2 separate regions of the Homo sapiens genome follow, and region 2 is linked to region 1. The links come from fine-mapping of genetic effects on gene expression. Tissue or cell type: lung. Region 1 holds a variant in brackets; the other region holds the start of a gene. All regions are shown on one strand. Distances are between the middles of the regions.

Region 1 (10,770 bases):
CACCTTCACCATGAGTACAACATGCTGCTCCCTCTCCTGGGTAGAGAAAGATGGAAAATAAACTAGCAAAAACAGGGTGAGGACTGCTCAGCTGCAAGCCCCTACTTGTAACCTGTTATTCTTTCTCATTCCTTCCCAGGTTTGGTTCACTTAGAACTAGTCTCTATTACATGCCTACTATGAGCCAGGCTCCATGCAAGATCTGTGAATATAATACTCCTGTGGTCTTTTACTAATTTGTCCACATCAGAAAGAAAAGTGGGGTGGGGGGGGAAGTCTAAGAGAATGTGTTCAAAATTAAACTTTTCACCAAGTAGAGCAGAGTCAGCCAATTAGAGCTGTTCAGAGAAAGAACCTGGTATTATTGGGAGGCTGCAGCCAGGGGTTCTGGACAAGGAGGCTGACCTGGGCAAGTCACAACCTCTCCAGGCTTTAGTTTTCTCATTTATTCAATAGAAAGGGCCAAATTAATATACCAAATATTAATTAGGAATCTCTAAGTATCTAAACATTTCTAAAATTCTATGACTAGGCTAAATTTCAGCATGAGTATAAAAGAATATAAATATAAAAAGAGAAAGAAATCAAGGGCCTGGATTAGATTCAGGAAAAAATTAAATAGCAAAAATAGGAGTCGCCAACATGGTTAAAAATATTTTACAGAAAACCTGCATTCCATAGCATAAATACATATAAAGGGCTACTGGTCTTGCAATAACCTAAGTTCACACTTCAAAGTCCAGGTACAGTAGTTAAATGAGCAGTGTGGGCTACCTTAGTATTAATCTTGTTTTACATTAAATGAAAATTTCAAGATAGAACTTAAATCCCTTCCATTTCATTTGTGCTTTCTGAACAGGTCAAATTACATAGCTAAGGCTGTATTTTCTTCAACAGAGAATCTTCCTAGTTGAACCCCAGGTAAAAACGTTCCTTATTTTTCTCAGCCCTAAACATTTAACCTTAAGGAGCCACATTCATCTCAATAAATACTTTCATTTGCATTAAGCGAGTCCCTTTTTCTGCATACACATATTTCAGTTAGGAGTTTTTTTAAGATTAAACATTTTTAATCTATAAAATAATTTGCATATCTTCTTTCTAAATTTGTTTTGTTTCTCAAAGCTTCATTTATGTGGAGATCCTTTTCTACATGCTCTACTGGTTTTAAGGAAGTAAGTTAAGGAAGTAAATTCACAAATGGTTATAAATGCAGTAATGAAGACTACAAAGCAGGCTGTGTTTCTCAAGCAAACCCTGTGTTTGCCAGTAAAGCACATGAAAAGAGTACGGTGGAGCTTTTATTGGAGAATCCTGCACCACAATCAGCAAAATTTTAAAAAGATATTTAATTTATATTAGCCTAGTAAATCCTATATACTAAAGATCAATTTCAAGAATATAAAGAGCTTAATAACTGTAAAATGCTATGGAAATACAAGTATTAAAGAAATGCACACTTCTCAGATCAGGTTCAAATGTCATTCAAATTTTAAAATCATTTGGAACTTTACCCAAGTTAACAATTCCCAACTACTGGTTAAATTAAGGTATATCCATAAAACATAAAAACCATGAGAAAGCTTGCTATGTACGGATATGAAAAGATCTCCAACATAAATTAAGTGAAAAAAACAAGGTACCTAAGAATATGTATGCCATCTTTTGTATAAAAAAGAAAAGGGAGGAAGAAAAGAAATTCTGGAGGGATATATAAGAAACTAGTAACTGTGAAAGGAAGACAAGTTTGATGAGACCAAGGTTAGAAAAAGACTTCACTGTAGCTCTTCTTTGTATTAAGTTTTTTTAAAAAAAATTAACCTACTCAAAAATGTAGTACATATTTTTAAAATTAAATATATATATATATATATATATTTTAAGTGGCCAGCCTAAGATCACATAGATCAATCTATTTATCTTCATAGCCTATACTTTTTCTTCTACATTAACCTGCTGACTAGAAATGAGGTGTAAAAGGAAGACATATTCCACAGCAATGTACCATGACTAATGGATGAGTGAGCTGTAAGGGCAATAAATGAGTTCAGAAAAGGAGAAATAGTATGTGTTACAGTGACTTCACAGAGGAAGTAAAATGTAACTTATGGCTTACAGGATAGGTAAGGATAGCTTTAGGATAGGAATAGAGGCAAATACAAAAATTTCCAGATAGGGGAATAACATGATAAAAGTAGCTGATTAATCCAAAGCCTTCAGGAAACAAAAAACACCATCTCTCCCATACCCACCCTGTTCTCTACCTTAGGGTTTCACAGATCCTCTAACTAAAGCCCTGGCAGGGGCCTTGGATGTCATATTGTCATCCTCATCTTATAAATGGTGACTACAGACTCACAGATATTAAATTTGTTTTTCTTGACTAAAGTTACTGAGAAGAACTGAGACTAGAACTCGGGTTTTGTAATCTCTGGTCCAGCACTCTCCAGTAATAAGAAACATTATGTCTTCAGTTGTCTAAAGTCAACAATGCTCTTTGTACATATAGATGCTTAGTTTGATTAAGTGATCCCACTGCAGAAGATATAGATTTGAACTCAAGATTTCAGCCTTCGACAATTAAACAGCACTCTTGTTAAACACAGGGATGGCTAAATTCAGTGATAATTTTCTTAACCATCTTTACTTAGGCAAACTGTGAGGAAGGCAGCACAGTATACAAGGCACCTGGAAGAGACCTGCGCTCCAATGTCTCTGCATCCTCACTGTCAAATGAGAGTTGGACTTGTTTGTAAAACCCTTAACTATCAACCCAAACTCATTTCATAATTTAGATAAGAAGTCCAGCTTTGTGACAGCTTTTTCACTGTTAGTAAGGTCTATAAAAGGGAAGTCTTCTTCAAAAAATATAACAACAGGCTGGGCATGGTGGCTTATGCCAATAATCCTAGCACTCTGGGGGGCTGAAACAAGAGGATAGCTAGAGCCCAGAAGTTCAATACCAACCTGGACAACATGGCAAAACCCCATCTCTATAGAAAGTACAAAAGCTAGCTGGATGTGGTGGCACATGCCTGTAGTCCCAGCTACCTGGGAGGCTGAGATGGGAGGCTGAGGTGGGAGGATCACCTAAGCCTAGGGAGGTCGAGGCTGCATTGAGCCATGATCATGCCACTGCACTCCAACCTTGGTGACAGAGGGGGTCCCATCTCAAAAATTAATTAATTAATTATAATATATATGTATATATAAAACAACCAACTGAATAAAGCAACAATGAAACAGTATTTCTAAAAGAGGAAAAAATTGTGTACTATCTTTAAAACTTTTTATCAGCAACCTTTCTTTAAAGCTTAGACAGTATCTCAAGTATTTTTTTCTTTTTTAAGATTTATTTGTATTTTTTAAAAATAGAGATGGGGTCTCACTATGTGTGCCCAGGCGGGTCTCAAACTCCTGGGCTCAAGTGATCCTCCCACCTCAGCCTCCCAAAGTGCCAGGATTATACACATGAGCCACCATGCCCAGTCTCAACAAGGTTTTTTGTTTGTTTGTTTTTTGTTTTGAGGCAGAGTCTCACTCTGTCACCCAGGCTGGAGTGCAATGGCATGATCTCAGCAACGTCTGCCTCCTAAGTTCAAGCAATCTTTCCACCTCAGCCTCCCAAGTAGCGGAATTACAGGCACCTGCCACCACACCCAGCTAATTTTTATATTTTTAGTAGAGACAGAGTTTCACCATGTTGGCCAGACTGGTCTCAAACTCCTGACCTCAAGTGATCCACCCACCTTGGCCTGCGTGCTGGGATTAGAGGCGTGAACGACTACACCTTACCAAGGTTTTCTTTTTATAAAAATAAAATATACAAGAAATAAAATTTTTGATGGCCGGAATATAAACTAGTAAAAAGAAGTAAAAGCTCCTCCATAAACTTATACAGCAATTTATGCTTTTTCAAGTAGACTCATACCATCTATTAATTTGTTTTAGCCTCTCCACAGGGAGAATAGATATTATTGCTATTTTACAGACGAAGAGGCTGAGTCAGAGATTAGGAGATGTGTCCCAAATCACAGAGTTTTACGTGTAGCAAAACTGGGATTAGACCCAAGCCTCCCACTCTGGTGTCCTTTCCATGCTTTGCTACCTTCCCTCTGTTTCTGGAAAAACAGATAGCCCTGCCAATACAAAGATGGACACGCCCGTGAGTTGTTTCTAAATTTTAGTGATGTGCTGGTGCTACCCCAGCCCCACCCCATCAGCTCCACAGGGCCCAACAGAGATGACAGGCACTATTCAGCAGAGCCAAGTTAGTGCCAGTGGCAAGGAAGTCCACATACCTAGAAGTCTGGGACCGTTCTCTCTCTGGGAGCCCTCATCTCCCAGCACCCTATCCCTCTGGGGGAATCTGCACTAAGAGGCACTAACCCCTTCTCCAGATGAGGAAGCTGAAAAGCAGATTAAGACAAAAGAATCAGAAAGAGGACTACAAGTTCTTGATTTGTAAAAGGACTGCCCCAAATCATTCTAATCAGGGTGTTTGCAAGTTTCTTGAAAAAGCTGAATTTATCCCGCTTCAAATGCCTGTTCCTCCAAAGGCCATTCTTTCAGCACCCACATAATTGCTAAGCAGCTTTGCTCTCATTCTGCTGATCTGAAGAATAAACTATTGTTACCACAATAACAGATCCATATCCATGCCAGAAACTCATCTCTCCAGTTCCCTCATAGCTGTCTGCAGTTGCCTCTGCAGGGCCTCTGCTGACAAGATGACTAATTAACTGCATGAGCCCTGCTCGTGTGGTCTGTTCCTGTTCAGTGGTTTGCTTGCCATTTACCCCTTTTGAGCATTTTACTCCAGCCATCATGAAAATGAAATCAAGGATGGTGAACAGTGTTTTAACACGAGTAAGTAGTGTTCACCCTCCTTTCTCCAAAGACGTAGAGATTCTAAAAAGTTATTTAAAACGTGCCACCCAGTAACACACTGTTTCCCTTTACAGGATGTGCGTAATGGGCAAGATTCAACACTGAAAAAAAAGCGGAGTGGGGGCAGATTTCTATTCCAAAAGACTTATCTGAACTGACACAATTATAGACTTATAACTCATAATGGGCAATCTTTTTTTAAAACATTAAAATTCCTGTCTGATTTATAAAATTTCAAGCCAATGGCAAATTACC[A/CCA]GAAAATTCTTCCTAACAATGGACCAGCATGACCAATTTCCTACCACAGCTATGCCCTGCCTTAAAAGCATTGTCTACTCTAAGTCCTGCCCATTCCCGCATGGACTCATTTTCCCCTTCCAAACATCTTTTCATCCTGCTTGTCACTGCTTAAGTCTTGCTTGTTTCCTCTTACCTTTAATCTAACCAGCCTCAAAAATCTCAAAGTCATTGTTCACATTGCTCTCAATCCCTAAGTACAATCAGTTACCATCCTAGACACTTACACCAAATCTTCAAGTACCACTAACATCACGTTATCCCCCTGCCTAAAAATCATCAGAAGACTACAGAAGTAAAAGCTAAGGAAATATGTGAGTTGTATATTTAAGTCACTCCACAGGCCAGCCCACTTCACCTTCCTTATTTCTTCCCACCCTCTGCACCAACCATATAAATCCAGCCAAATAAGCTTACTAACTGCATCCCAGGCAACTTGTACCACATCCCTTTCTCCCCTGGGCCCTTGCTCAATTTACCCCTACCTCCTTTCCTGCCTAACAAAAATGGCATCTCTTTCTGAAGCCTTCACCACCCAAACCAAGATGATCTTTCTTCACTCTGTTTCCCAAGCAGTACCTCTTGTGCTAACTACCACACATGATTTCTCTCTCCTGTAAGACTGTACATTTCTGAAAGGCCCATATCTTATACAACATTGCATGCCCATGGCACCTGGCATGCTGCCCAGAATCCAGAAGACTTTCAATAACTGCTAAGTGAATTCTTTCTAAAAATTCTCTTAACACTAAAGCCGTGATACTTTAATATTAACAATAATCTTAGAAAATATACTATTTCTATCTCCTCACTTCACAGATAAAAAGACTGTGGCCTGAGACTTGGCCTAAGTCACACAATAATTAGCAACAAAGTAGGGACTAGAACTCAAATCTCTTAGCTCTCTGTCCCACAGTGATGCCCTGTGCTGGAAACATTTCTCTTCTGCCTAGTCACATCCTTCAAGATTGGGTCATTCATAAACTCTAGGAAATCTTTATGGATTACCACCCTGCCCCATGAACTCCTATTCAGCATTTAACTATGTTCTGTTTCAGATACTAATGGTATCTCAAATATCTAACTTATCAAATATCCTCCCTTATTGAAGGGAGGAAATAAATATTTTCCTTCTGCATCCTTCAGTGACTAGCATAGGGCTAAGCGAAGATTCAGTAAGAGCAGAACACTTACAGACAGATTAAGGAAAAGTAACTCAAAGTCATCTGTTGGAATGCTGTCCACAGAATATATGCCACTGATGTCATACAGCATGGATGGCACTGGATTACACTCTAACTGAACCACCTTTTTAAAGTTATTTTGGATAACTTACCAACTTACCCCTCTTCAGAAACTAAACAGAAAATACTGGTAAATTTGACCACAGAAAAATGCTTATATTTTCTTTTAAAAAGAAAGAAACCATAAAAAAACAAAAAAGGCAAATAGCTCCAATATTCAAATCATTCTTGTGGACACGAATAGAAAATTCACAAAAGAAACTAATCACTAATAAATAGAGGATACCTTTCAAGTTCAGGTGGAACTCCTGGGACCTTTAACTTTTGGATTGTATGGCTAAGGCATAATGTTGTTTGTTGTGTATTATATTTGGTATAACTTTTCTTACTGTTTCTCTACTAAGAATGCCTTTAAATATGGTTATTGTGATACTTTTTTACAAGGAAACTATATTTGAGCAGTTCCAAATTGTACATACTGTATGAACCTTGTCCTCTGAATGGGTTCCTTATTTCTACACGGAATTGCGTAGCTTGCAGTATCATGTAACTAAAGATTAAACCTCACCTTTTACTTCAAAAATAGGCAAATAAAATATAGGAAAAGATGCTTAATCTTGCTAGTAATCAAAAGAATGCACATTAAAAGAGCTACTACTTTTTGCCTAAGTAATACCTGGTGTTTGAGGAGATATAAGGGAGTAAAGACTACCAATATCCAACACTGCAGAAGGTACAGAGCAGGTTTTTCTCAACTTCAGTACTACTGACATTTTTGGCTGAATAATTATTTGTTTGGGGGACAGGGCAGGTAACCTACGCATTGTACAATGTATAGCAGTATCCTGGGTTAAAAACATTTAAAACATCTCAAATACCTGTGAATAGGAAATGGTTAAATAAAGCATGATGCATCAACACAATGAAAGAGTTCACAGTCATTATAAAGGATGGTGTCTGTATCTATATGCATTTATACAGAAAGATGACCCTAACACAATGCTTAAGAAGAGACTACAGGCCAGGCACAGTGGCTCTCACCTGTAATCCCAGCACTGAGGGAGGCCAAGGGAGGAGGATCACTTGAGCCCAGGAGTTCAAGACCAGCCTGGGCAACAAAGTAAGACCCTATCTCTACAAAAAATACAAAAATTAGCTGTGAGCCTGTGGTCCCAGCTACTAGGGAGGCTAAGGTAGGAGAATCAAATGAGCCCAGGAGGTTGAGGCTGCAGTGAGTCGTGATGGTGCCGCTGTACTCCAGCTCTGGCAACTGAGCGAGAACCTGTCTCACAAAAATAAATAAATAAATAAATAAATAAATAAGAAAATAAAAGAGGATACGAAAGGATACAGAATATGACCCTATTTATACAAAAGGACATATATGTCTGTGTATTTACATATGTGTATATGCATGTGTGTACATGATGGGGGAAGGGAGAAAGAGAGATATATAAGAAAGATATTCACTGAAAAGTTAATTACAACCTGCCTTTGGTGGTAGAATTTGAATGTTTTACTTTGGACTCTGTACTTTAATACATTGTTTGAGTATTCTATGTATTACCTTTCAATCAGAAAATGAAGCTTTTATCTTTTAATATTTTATATATTTTAAATAGAAAATTAAAAAATTAAGTAGGGTGGAGGGCTTGCTATGGTCTGAATGTGTCCCCCAAAATTCATATGTTGAAACTTAATCTCCAATGTGTCAGTATTAAGAGGTGAGGCCTCGCCGGGAGCAATGGCTCACGCCTGTAATCCCAGCACTTTGGGAGGAGGCCAAGGAAGGTAGATCACGAGATCAGGAGATCGAGGCCATCCTGGCCAACATGGTGAAACCCCATCTCTACTAAAAATACAAAAATTAGCCGGGCGTGGTGGTGTGTGCCTGTAGTCCCAGCTACTCGGGAAGCTGAGGCAGGAGAATTGCTTGAACCAGGGAGTCAGAGATTGCAGTGAGCAGAAATCACACCACTGTACTCCAGCCTGGGTGACAGAGCAAGACAAGACTCCGTCTCAAAAAAAAAAGAGGTGAGGCCTTTAGGTGGTGATTAAGTCAAGAGAGCGGAACTCTCGCAAATGGGATCAATGACCTTATAAAAGAGGTTGAAGGGAGAGAGTTCCCTAGTCTCTTTTGCCCTTCTGCCATGTGAGGATACAGCAACAAGGAACCATCTTGGGAGCAGACAGCAAGCCATCACCAGACACTCAATCTGCTAGCATCTTGATCTTGGACTTTCCAGTATCCAGAACTGTGATAAATAAATTTATATTATTTATAAATTACCTAGTCTGTGGTATTTTGCTGCAGTATCAGGACTAGGTGAAACAAGGCTCCTGCTAGAAAGCACCAGTAAAATTAGAAAATGAAAAGATCATTGTAGAACTATAAAGTTGATAAAATTAACTCCTCTGAGCCACCCACAAAGCATGCTTTCCCATACCTCTTTAAAAAGCCACCCTATGGAGGTTGTGGCAGGCCGAGATGGTGCTACTGCACTCCAGCCTCGGCACAGAGCGAGACTCCATCTCAAAAAAAAAAAAAAAGAAAGTCACCCTAATGGACAACAAAGTCCCCCAATTTGGGACAGCCTCCTGAGAGTCCAGCCCCCCAGTGAAATATTGCACAAATGTCTTTTAAGAAGGTAAATGATTTGTGAGGAGATTTAACTCCAGCAAGCTTCTTTATCTTTCTCACTACTCTGTAAGTTCCTTAAAGAGAGAGTCTGTATTTTAGCCATCTGTGCAATACGTATTTTAGCCATCTGTGAATACCAAAACCTAATGAAGTACCTAATGAGAGAGCTGTTCAACAAATGTTTGCTAAATTAGTCCCATTTAAGAATTTCCAAGAATTTTTTTCTTTTTTTAAATTTCATTTTGCTACTTTACCATCTTCATCTAGATCTGGGTCTTTGCATTTATTTTACTATACTACCATGTTTCTAGAAGAATTTTTAATTGGAATCTCTAGTTCAGATCACTTTCAGAGTGAAAAACAATGCCTCCATTAGTTCTTAACACCACCAGAACTAGCCAAGCACAACTCGTCTGGCCTGAGATCTAGTAGAGAAGTCCAGTTTCTTAAAATTCAAGTACAGACTTCTGAGAAAAGGACACAATAAGAATTAACAAGCAGGTGTGAGAGAAGGCTCTATAACAGAAGAGGGGGCTCTGAGCTCCTTGACTATCACCTCCTTAGAAGTTTAATTTAGTACACTCATCTCCAAGAGAAAATGTGAAGTCACAGTGTGCATTCAAAGTGGTGACAAAGACCACAAATCTGGCTGGACGCAGTGGCTCATGCCCATAATCTCAACACTGGGAGGCTGAGGCAGGAGGATCACTTGAGGTCAGGAGTTTGGGACCAGCCCGGGCAACATAACAAGACCCTGTCTCTATGAAAAATATAAAAATTAGCAAGGCATGGTGGCGCACACCTGCAATCCCAACTGCTCAGCAGGCTGAGGTGGGAGGACCACTTGAGCCTAGGAGTTCAAGGTTGCAGTGAGCCATAACAGCACCACTGCACTCCAGCCTGGGTGACAGTGTAAGACCCTGTCTCAAAAAGAAAAATTTTTTAATTTAAGAAAGATCACAAATCTGAAGTCATTAAAATATACAGAAATCAAAAATATATAAAATAAAATTAAAAATAAAAGAATGAAAAAAAATCACAAATGTGAGGTTTCCCTCGGCTGCCCCACCTTCTCACCAACCTGACCCCGCATGGTCCCTAAAATATGACTTCTATCCCTATCAATCTCTTGAAATTGCTTTTCTAAATGGATTCTGAGGTAGACACAGAGATGCACCACTCAGATGCCCCCTCAAGTAGGTAACTGCTACCCAGCTACAAGGACTGTGTTAAGCTGATAGCCTCCAGCTACTTTCAGGGTCCCAGTGACAGAGCGGGGTGGTAGGATCACTTTTCCTCAATGTGGGAGTCCCATAAGGGGCAATCTTTGCTTCAGAGCTCCTGGTTTTGCCAAATCCATATGATGGTTTGACAGTTCCTTTTCCCAATTTCATTTCCTCTCTCCCACCCCACAGGTAACACTTTTGTATTCCTAACAGTGTCTTAACATTGGCTTCCTGGAGAACCCATGCTGGGACAGATACCTTCTGGCCAAGTCACTCTCCCAAAGGTCTGGCAGTTGGCAGTCTGAATCACCCCCTCCTCTTAGACGTTTTTGGTCCCTGACATACCATTTTCTTTTCTTTTCTTTTCTTTTTCTTCTTTTTTTTTGAGACAGGGTCTTGCTCTGTTACTCAGGCTGGAGTGCAGTAGCTCGATCTGGGCTCACCACAGGCTCGACCTCCTGGGCTCAAGCAATTC
Region 2 (10,770 bases), 25 kb after region 1:
TGAGAAGAAATCGCTTCTTCCTTTAAAATCTCATGGCTCCATATCTTCTGTCACACTCAGTATCTTTAACCCAATATTTCTGTTTGTTACCTTCACCACCAGACTTTATGTTTTTTAAGGATCAGTAATTGTCTGAGTAATATAATCTCTATCTGGAGAGAGAGAGTGTGCCTTCTTTAATGGTCATTTAGCCTTTTAATTTGCCTACCAAAGTTTAAACTCTTTGAAGGCAAAGATTCATATTTGTTTCTTTTTTCTCTGCCTTTCACCACCATATCCCTTATCTAGTGAATATATCCATTCTCTGTGTCAAAAGTTGTGAAGATAACTCAAAAAGGCAAGTATCAAAAATATTTTAGAATACCCATATAGCTTTCCAAAGCAATACATTTTAACCATCATTTTGGATACATAATTATTAGTCTGCTGTTTAACAAATCAATTATTTGACATTTCCTCCAAGGAGATATTAACTCTTAAGAGCCTAAAAATACTAATCTTCTGACTAAATTAGCATGGTACCTTACACATAGTAGACTTACAGAAGGTTACTGTATGAGTGAATGAATCAATCAACAAATTAAGGCAAAAACTCTACTCCCAGCCAACAGAACACAGAACTAGGGTCAAACACAAAAGGAGACCTAAATAAAAATGTTTAAATATTTTCAATTCTACGAACACTGGCAAGATGAACAGAACTGAACCAATCCCAAAGTCTCATACAGACAAGAGAGAGACAAAATACAATTGCACAGTTGCATTATCAACATACTGTGGGTGAAATCTATGAACTGGGATTTAACATTTCCTGCCAAGACGCTTTTCCTATAAGCAGCCATAAAGACAATTTTGAATAAAGTATCATCAAAGTAATCCAAAAAATCTCATTTATGCCGTCAATTGGAAGAGAAGAAAATGAAGAAACCATTGGCTTTAAAGTGTGAAAATAGGCCAGGCATGGTGGCTCACGCCTATAATCCCAATGCTTTGGGAGGCCAAGGCGGGTGGATCACCTGAGGTCAGGAGTTTGAGATGAGCCCAGCCAACATGGTGAAACCCCATCTCTACTAAAAATACAAAAATTAGCCAGGTGTGGTAGTGGGCACCTGTAATCCCAGCTATTTGGGAGGCTGAGGCAGGAGAATCGCTTGAACCCAGGAAGCAGAGGTTGCAGTGAGCCAAGATCGCACCACTGCACTCCAGCCTGGGTGATAAAGCGACACTCCGTCTCAAAAAAATAAAAAATACAACAGTAATAGTAATAAAGTGTGAAAATAGGATGGGTGCAGTGGCTCGTGCCTGTAATCCCAGCATTTTGAGAGGCTGAGGCAGGCATATAGTCTGAGCTCAGGAATTCAAGACCAGCCTGGGCAAATGGCAAAACTCCATCTCTACATAAGTACAAACATTAGCTGGGCATAGTGGCCTGTGCCTGTAGTCCCATCTACGTGGGAGTCTGAAGTGGGAGGACTGCTTGAGCCCAGGAGGTTGAGGCTGCATTGAGCCATGATCGCGCCACCGCATTCCAGCCTGGGCGACAAAAAGACCTTGTCTCCAAAAAAAGAGAAAAAGAATTATAAAGAGTTGTCTGGACAAGGTGGCTCATATCTGAATACCAGCACTTTAGAAGGCCAAGGCGGGCGGATGTCTTTGAGCTCAGGAGTTCAACACCAGCCTGGACAACATGACAAAACCCTATGTCTACAAAAAAATACAAAAATGAACTGAGCATGGTGGCTCATGCCTGTGAGCCTAGCTACTTGGGAGGTGGAGGCTGGAGGATCGCTTGAGCCAGGAAGTGGAGGTTGCAGTGAGCCAAGATAGTGCAACTGCACTCCAGCCTGGGTGACACAGCAAGACCCTGTCTCTCTCTCTCTCTCTCTCTCTCACACACACACACACACAGAAGTGTGAAAATCTTGGTTCTAGATTAGCTACTACTTACAACTGTGACTTTGGACAAATCACTAAACATATCATTGCAGTTGCTCACACCTGTAATCCTAGCACTTCTGGAGGCCAAGTTGGTTAAATTGCCTGAGCTCAGGAGTTCGAGACCAGCCTGGGCAATACAATGAAACCCCGTCTCTACTAAAACATACACACAAAAAAATTAGTCAGGCATGGCAGCGGGCACCTGTAGTCCCAGCACTTTGCAGGGCCAAGGCGGGCAGATCACGAGGTCAGGAGTTTGAGACCACCCTGGCCAATATGGTGAAACCCCATCTCTACTAAAAATACAAAAATTAGCCAGGCTTGGTGGCACGTGTCTGTAGTCCCAGCTACTCAGAAGGCTGAGGCAGGAGAATCGCTTGAACCCGGGAGGCAGAGGTTGCAGTGAGCCGAGATCACACCACTGCACTCTAGCCTGGGTGACAGAGCGCAACTCCGGCTCAAAAAAAAAAAAAAAAAATTAAGAGGTCATCTGGGAATATCTGGAAAAAAAGAATAAAATTTTCTTCTCCTCTTAAGATCTTTAAAAGAGAAATGATGGTTGAAAGCAAAAAATTTAATATTGTCTGATGGGGATTTCAATGTATGTAGATTAATAAATATGACAATTACAACATAAAGCAGTGAGAGTAAAGGGACCTATATGGTGATAAGTTTTCTACATTCTCCTTAAAGTGGTAAAATATTAACTCTAAGTACACTATGAAAAGTTAGGGATGGATATTCTAACTCCTAGAGCAAGTACTAAAAAAACCTACATGAAGAAATATAGTAAAAAACTCTATTAAAATGAAATATTGGCCAGGCACAGTGGGTCACACTTGTAATCCTAGCACTTCATGAAACCAAGGAGGGCAGATCACCTGAGCTCAGGAGTTCAAGACCAGCCTGGCCAACATGGTGAAACCCCGTTTCTACTAAAAATACAAAAATTAGCTAGGTGTGGTGACGCACACCTGCAATCCCAGCTACTTGGGAGGCTGAGGCACGAGAATCTCTAGAACCTAGGAGACAGACGTTGCAGTGAGCCGAGATCACACCACCGCACTCCAGCCTGGGCAACAGGGCAAGACTGTGTCTCAGAAAAAAAAAAAACAAAAAACTAAAGCATATTCAAATAATCCCAAAGATGGAAGAAAAAGAGAGGAAAAAAAAAAAGCAGAAACCAAATTATAATAAAATGGTAGCCCTAAATCAAACCATATCAATAATTACATTAAATGTAAATGGCCTAAATATACCAATTAAAAGACAGAGATTGTCAGAATGAATAAAAAAAAAGACCCAGCTACATCTATTTATTAAAAACTTACTTTAAATAAAATGGCATAGGTAAGTTAAAAGTAAAAATAAAAGTAAAATGTAGACCTACTCATAACTCCCCCGAACTGGAAATAACACAAATTCTCACAGATGCATGGCTAAAAACTACCATACATCCATGCAATAGAATATTACTTAGCAATTTAAAAAATTATTGGTACACACAACAAAATGGATTAATCTCTAAGGCATTATGCTGGGTAAAAGAAATCAGTTTCAACAGTTACAAACTATATGACTCCATTTACATGGCACTTCGGAAAAGGTAAAACTATAGCAATTAGGAAAGATCAATGGTTGCCGACAGTTGGGGTGGAGGCAGGGCAACATCAGGGAGTTTTTTAGGATGATGGAACTGAGGAAGCCATGGTTGTGGTGATAGTTATATAAATCTATACATATGTTGAAATTTATAGAACTGTACACCAAAAGTCAATTTTACTGTATGTTAATATTTAAAAATGAAGTAAAATAAAAATTACGTGGATGATCTCCATGGACCCTTCCAGACTATGATTCTATCAGTGAGAAAAAGAAAGGAGAGGCAAAAGGAAGACAAGGAGAATGTTAAGTCCTACTGGCATAAAAGCCACTACTCAGAAGAACGGGATTACTGTACAAAAATATACAAAACAAACCCAATCTTCAGAATTTATTCCCAGAAGGGGCTAAGAAAACCGGACATTCGGATCTAAAATATGTATATTTTTAAATGCCTATGAATAGCTTTTCTTGTCTGTTTCTATATTTTTTTACTTTGAAGAAGCTGCCAATTTCTGCTGGCTTAATGCCAATTTCGCTGCTTGGGGTTACTCAATTTACAAGCATCCCTTTATTTATACCCTATACTCTAGGGTCTCCGGCAGTCACAATAACGACTCTGAAAAAGCAGTCGCTTTTGCAGGGTGCCAGAAAGATCAGCGCTCCTCACCCGGAACTAAGGTCCCTGTGGGACACAGTACACCCCGTCCACTAGTTCCAAACTTAAAAGACGCTGGGCGGAAGGTCTTCCCAAGTCAAAAAGCCTCCCAAAGGAGAAGGACCCTGGAGGCCGGGCTTCGGGGCATTTCTGCGTCTCCGGACTGCCCTGTCGCCTCCGGGGCAGCTAGCCGTTTTGAGGACTGTCCTGGTGTGGGGCTGTGGGCTGCAGAAGGTTCTGCCCAGCGACCTTGGGCAAGTCCCTTCCTCTCCTGGAGTAAGAGGAAAATTCTGGGAAGGCTGTGTAAGGGAGCTTCCCATTGCCGCCTCAGAATCCACTTTCTGCCCCCCGCTCTCCAACGCCAAGAAGGAATCACACTTGGCCCTCCAGACTTCACCCCAGCCTTATGCCCGCCACCCTTCCCAGTCCCTGGGAGACCCGCGGGAACTAACACATCCAACCGAGGGCATGGCCCGAAGGCAAGGGGGAGGCAGTAAACACCAAATCCCGGTCTCAGACCCACTCCGCCCCAAGCGGGCCTACCGGGCGCATTCCGACCCGCCCCGCCCTGCGGTCACGGCCCGCCAGGTCCCGCTTCCACCCAAGGGAAGTACAGAGCGCGCCGGGGAGGGTCGGGTGGGGGGCCGGGTCAGGAGGCGCCCACCTTGAGCTGGGACTTGGAGACCTTGCCGCTGTGGTCCTGGTCGAGTGCGGTGAAGGCGTGCCAGATGGCTTTGAGCAGCTCCTCCTTCAAGCTCCCCATGGCCGCGGCCCTGCTGCCCCGCCAACCCCTCCTGCCCAGCCAGCCCCTCCGCGCCTCGGACGCCCCTCAACCTCCGCAGCCACAGCCCGCCGCGCAGTCACCTGACCCGCCAGGCCCCGCCCCCGCCAGGCCCCGCCCTGCTGCCGGCGCCGGTCCAGTGCCGCGCCCACAGCCGCCAGAGTGTGGGTTCTGCGAGTCAAGCCACGCCTGGTGGCAAGAATGCTTGGCCTTCAGTGTCAGCCAGGACGGTAAACACATCTCCCTAATGTTTCCCAGACCAGTTCGGGCCATTTTGGGTGCTCGAGTACAACACCTCACACAAATGACCGCGTCTTGAGGAAAAACCCGAGAGATTAGGTGAGCAGCCTACCCGCCTCCTCCCAGCGCCCCGCAGTGAAAAAGGGATCCCTGGTCCTGTCCTGGGAACGGAGTCACTGTCTGAGAAGGCCAGAGAAGACCCCGAAAAGTCCCCAGACCAGGACTGAAATGATAGCGCAGTCCCAAGTCGGGGAGATGCAGGGCGGCGGGGAGGCAGGAAGGACCTCGAGGGAAGTTTGTTGGTTCATTTCGCAAAAGTTTATTCATGCATACTCTATCTTGGGTTCTAGGGACACAGCGACGACGTTTAAGGGGAGTTTAGAAGTCAGGGTCAGGCAGCATTTTCTTCCTAACGCCTAGCTGTTGTTCAATTCACATCTTAGGAGGGGTTTGACCTGGGTAATACCTCTCTGTAGTGTTTCTCTGCTTGCAGAATAGGAGATCTGGGCCAATTCCAAATCACTCCACCCATTTTACTAATCCAAAGAGATGGACCATTTAAAAGAACGTATTCGGCCAGGCGTGGTGGCTCACGCCTGTAATCCCAGCCCTTTGGGAGGCCAAGGCGGGCGGATCACCTGAGGTCGGGGGTTCGAGACCAGCCTGACCAACATGAAGAAACCCCGTCTCTACTAAAAATACAAAATTAGCCGGGCGTGGTGGCACATGCCTGTAATCTCAGCTACTCGGGAGGCTGAGGCAGGAGAATCGCTTGAACCCGGTAGGCGGAGGTTGCAGTGAACCAAGATCGCGCCATTGCACTCCAGCCTGGGCAACAAGAGTGAAACTCCGTCTCAAAAAAAAAAAAAAAAGTATTCGATTGCAGCTGTTGAATTAATATCTGTTCGCGGTGGTCACAATGGTCACTTGATCTCTTTGGGCTTCAAATTATCCCGTATAAAAAGAGCAGGGTTGCACCAGATGTTCTGGAAGGGTTCTTGCAGTACTAGCATCCTAGGATAATAACTATTGCCGGTTAACTAAGGTCTGATTAAATCGCCAGGCTCAGTACCTCTCCTCTCCAATCCTGGACTAATTGGAGAGAACAATAAACACCAAGAGTTTTTAAAATGAGGTGGTTCTCAGATGAAGTTTGGTTTTGTTTTGCTTTTTTAAGTTCCTTAATGCACATGTTTGCCTTATTAAGAAAGGAAAAGATCTTCATAAGAAAGGGATATTTGGAAAGAGAAGAACAAGAAGGAGCCTCTTCAGTGAGTTTGAGATCAAAAAGGAACTGGTGGGGAAGAGGAGAGGATGGCCCCACTGACGAAAGAAGGGGCAGGAGCAAAAGGGTGGCCAGCCCCTCACTGTGACTGTCCTGAAGGTTCTACCCCATTTCATCACCATTTGTCAGGACTTTTCTTGCCCTACCAGAATCCAATTTCTATCATTTATCTTCCCCATTTCCAGCCCAAGTCTGCCAGTCAGCAAAACCACATGGTTTAACCTCTGATTTATTCATGCGAAGTCAGCTTACCCTGAGTAGCAAAAAAAAAAAAAAAAGAAGAAGAAGAAAAAAGAAACGAAGAAAACCTCCTAATTCTCAAGGTTCAGTTTAACCACTATATGACCCTTCTTCTCTCTCAGTATCTGGAAGTACCAAACATATTTCAAAGCCTTTTTTTTATGACAAGACCAGGACATTGTGGACTTCCAAATTCCTACTTCTCCCATCATCCTCATTCATACAATCCAAACGCATTTTTTTTCTTTTTTTTTCTTTTCTTTTTTTTTTGAGACAGAGTCTCACTCTGTTGCCCAGGCTGGAGTGCAACGGTATGATCTCAGCTCACTGCAACCTCCGCCTCCCGGGTTCAAGCGATTCTCCTGCCTCAACCTCCCAAGTAGCTGGGATTACAGGCGCCAGCCACCACGCCCGGCTAATTTTTTTATTTTTAGTAGAGATGGGGTTTCGCCATGTTGGCCAGGTTGGTCTCAAACTCCCAGCCTCAAGTGAGCTGCCCTCCTTGGCCTCCCAAAGTGCTGGGATTACAGGCGTGAGCCACCATGCCCTTCCTATCCAAACAAATTTTAAAGTAGCATGATGTCATAGAAAGCGCTGTGCTTTTCCTGGGTGCAGTGGCTCCTGCCTGTAATCCCAACACTTTGAGAGACTGGGGTGGGAGGATTGCTTGAGGCCAGGAGTTCAAGACCAGCCTGGGCAATGTAGCAAAACCCCGTCTCCACAAAAAAATTGAAAATAAGAAAGAAAGAAAAGTAAAGAGTTGTGCTTCAGAATCTAACAGATTATATTAATCTAATGCTGTGTAACCAATTAACCCAAAATTTAGCAGCTTAAAACTATAGTAAACATTATTTCATATTTTCTGTAAGTCAGGAATTTAGAAGCCACTTAGCTCTATAGTTCTGGCTTGAAGTGTCTCAGGAGGTTGCAGTAAAATATAGGGCTGTAGTCATTTGAAGGCTAGGCTGATGCTGGAAAATCTATTTCCAAGGTGGTTCACTCACATGGATGGGTCGTTTACAGAAGGCCTCAGTTCCTCTGTATATGGGCCTGTCCTCAGGCTGCTTGAGTATCCTTACAACACGTCAGCTGGCTTTCAATTGATTCAAGAAAGAGAAAGATGGAAGTTGCAATGTCTCTTACGATCCACCATCAAAAGTCATTCACCATCATTTCTGCAATGCTCTACTGATTGCTCAGGTCAAATCTATTTGATTTGGGAGGGAAACTACAAAAGGATATGAGTACCAATGGGCAAGAATCATGGGGGTCATCTTGGAAGATGGCTACCACACAGATGTCGGGAAGAATCCGGGCTTCCCCATTGACTCATCTATGAGTAAATATAAGGCTTCATTTCCTCATATGTAAAATGAGAATGCTAATATTTATTTTGCAACACTTCTTTTTTCTTTTTTTAATTTTTTTTTTTTTTTTTACAGCCCAGAGGTCCTTTATTTTTTTTTTTAACACCTATTATGCCATGAATTCATAGGAAATAGGTTCCAGCAGCTCAGGCTGCTTCCCGTTGGTTCTCACAAAGTGTGCTTCTCTGGGTGGAGCAGGCTGGCGCTTTAGTTGAACCCAGGTACCTTTCTCTTTGGCGTCTTTCTTTTTCTGATCATTTTCCTTCACGTGTTTCAGGAAGCTATCTCGGCTCTTAGAGTGCTTAATGTGCTCAATACGCACCTTAATTCTCTTGGCAAGAATCTTGCCCTTAACTTGTTTGTTTACAACAATGCCAACAGCATGCTGGGTAACATTGTAGACTCTTCCAGTTTTGCCATGGTAACACTTGTGGGGCATTCCTTTTTGAGCAGTACCCATTCCCTTGATGTCTACAATATCAGCTTTCTTATAGATTCGCATATATGTGGCCAAAGGAACAACTCCATGTTTTCTAAAAGGCCTAGAGAACATATATCGGGTGCCTCTCCTCTTTCCCTTTGTGTTCGTCATTTTGGCGAATTACTGGAAGATGGCGGTTCCGGCCGAAAGGAAACTTTTTTTTTTTTTTTTTGAGACGAAGTCTTGCTGTCACCCAGGCTGGAGCGCAGTGGCTTGATCTTGGCTCACTGCAATCTCTGGCACCTGGGTTTAAGCAATTCTCCTGCCTCAGCCTCTGAAATAGCTGGGATTACAAGCGCGTGCCACCATGCCCAGCTAATTTTTGTATATTTAGTAGAGATGGGGTTTCAGCATCTTGGCCAGGCTGGTCTTGAACTCCTGACCTCGTGATCCACCCTGCCTCGGCCTCTCAAAGTGCTGGGATTACAGGCGTCAGCCACCGCACCCGGCCTCTTTTTTTAATTTTTATTTTTTTGATGAGGTCTTTCCAGATGAGATCTATTTTGCAAGACTGGTATGAAGTTTAAATGAGAGGGTAGTATGTATAAGACACAGCATCAGCATCATGGTATCTGACAGTCACTGATGTTTGTACTGTGTCAATTAGGTAAGTTGAAATCTAGTTCCTCAAATGTCCGTTCCCAATGTGGATCCAGGATAGGATTCACTACAGAAGAATTTCGTGTAAGTTTGGAAGGAGCAGGTAAGATTTATGTAAGATTTGGAAGCAGCAGCCCTTGTGTTCTGAAGGTTGATGTAAATATCACATGCCGCTGCAGATCATAGAGTGGTTACTGATCTGCTAACATACTTTGTTGGTACAGAGCATTAACTGGCCCACAGCTCCTTCAACTCCCACCAAATTTTCTATTTCAGTGTCTCCAAGCCTTGGCGCAAGGCACGTGTAGTTCCATGGTAAAGGCATTAGCTTATGCTACATATCGCATGCTCGTCAATGTGAAAGATAGCTGTGAGTTCCATTTTGTCTTCGTGGGTTCCAGTTTGTCCTGTGGATTCTAGTTTGTCCTCACTCTCCCTCAATGCAATCCAACTTTTCTTCCTGATTGCTAGCCCTGATGACCTATCATAAACTTCAGGCCCATTGCTGGATGCAGAGGGAACAGCCTTCCATGTACTCATTCGTCAGCTTTCCTTTGTGATCTCTGGTTAGTGACTTTTCTGATTGTCCAGCCATCTCCTTTCAGACCTTTTCTTCCCTAGCTTCTCCTGCAACTGTATTGTATCCAATTCTCAGAATAAAGCCTGTATTCCATAGTGGTGGCCACTTCCCTGATCAGCCCATAACTGATAATAAAACTGGTGAAGTTAGACACTGCAACAATGAAAAGCATGTGTTGGCCGGGCGCGGTGGCTCACGCCTGTAATCCCAGCACTTTGGGAGGCTGAGGCAGGTGGATCACGAGGTCAGGAGATCAAGACCATCCTGGCTAACATGGTGAAACACTGTCTCTACTAAATATACAAAAAATTAGCCGGGTGTGGTGGCGGGCGCCTGTAGTCCCAGCTACTCGGGAGGCTGAGGCAGGAGAATGGCGTGAACCTGAGAGGCGGAGCTTGCCGTGAGCGGAGATCGCACCACTGCACTCCAGCCTGGGTGACAGAGCGAGACTCTGTCTCAAAAAAAAAAAAGAAAGAAAAACATGTGTCATCGGCTTTGGACAGGGGTGGGCGGAAGCCAAAAGGACCTCAAGAGAAGTCTTGAAGGACAGTGAGGGAATTGCTATTGAAGGTCGGTGCTTTGAGTTGACTTGTGTCCCCACCAAAATTCATATTGAAATTCTAACTCCCAGTACCTCAGAATGTGATCTTATTTGCTCTTGTTTTTGGGTTTTTTTAGCGACAGGATCTCAGTCACCCAGGCGGGGGTAGAGTGGTACAATCATAGCTCGCTGTAACCTTGAACTCCTGTGCTCAAGTGATCCTCCTGCCTCCGCCTCCCAAGTACATAGGATTATAGGCACATACCACCATGCCCAGCTAATTTTTTTACTTTTTTTGTAGAGACAGGGTCTTGGCTATGTTGTCCACACTGGTCTCAAACTCCTGGCCTCAAAGGATCCTCCCACTTCAGCCTTCCCAAGCACTGGGATTACAGGCATGAGCCACTGCACCCAGCCAGAATGTAATCATATTTGAAGATAGGGTCTTTATAGAGGT

Direction of the effects. Positions count from the first base shown, and alleles are read on the strand shown. Sizes are in standard deviations (SD) of each study's normalised expression.
In carriers of allele CCA in region 1, the expression in lung of the gene that starts at base 5,064 in region 2 tends to be lower than with A alone (small effect, 0.24 SD a copy in GTEx).

What was found. PIP is the estimated chance that this variant, and not a neighbour inherited with it, causes the effect.
Region 2: SWAP70 starts here. The variant in region 1 is fine-mapped to the expression of SWAP70 in lung (TOPMed, PIP above 0.99). The same link has a PIP of 0.9 or more in atrial appendage, breast, left ventricle, subcutaneous fat, thyroid and visceral fat.

Annotation. Positions count from the first base shown.
Region 1 is chr11:9,683,326-9,694,095 of GRCh38, reverse strand. All of the region lies in intron 1 of SWAP70 (switching B cell complex subunit SWAP70), which reads right to left. Among named protein-coding and RNA genes, the nearest start is that of SWAP70, 25 kb to the right of the region's middle. The variant A/CCA (reference allele first, on the strand shown) is at 5,146.
Region 2 is chr11:9,658,371-9,669,140 of GRCh38, reverse strand. It overlaps SWAP70 (switching B cell complex subunit SWAP70), which reads right to left and starts at 5,064. Exons shown (of 12, transcript NM_015055.4): 1 at 4,863-5,064. The coding sequence starts at 4,961. LOC124902628 (a long non-coding RNA gene) reads left to right here and starts at 9,027. Exons shown (of 2, transcript XR_007062586.1): 1 at 9,027-9,758. It also overlaps the pseudogene RPL21P97. RefSeq lists enhancers at 4,457-4,576, 5,687-5,886 and a silencer at 4,717-5,216.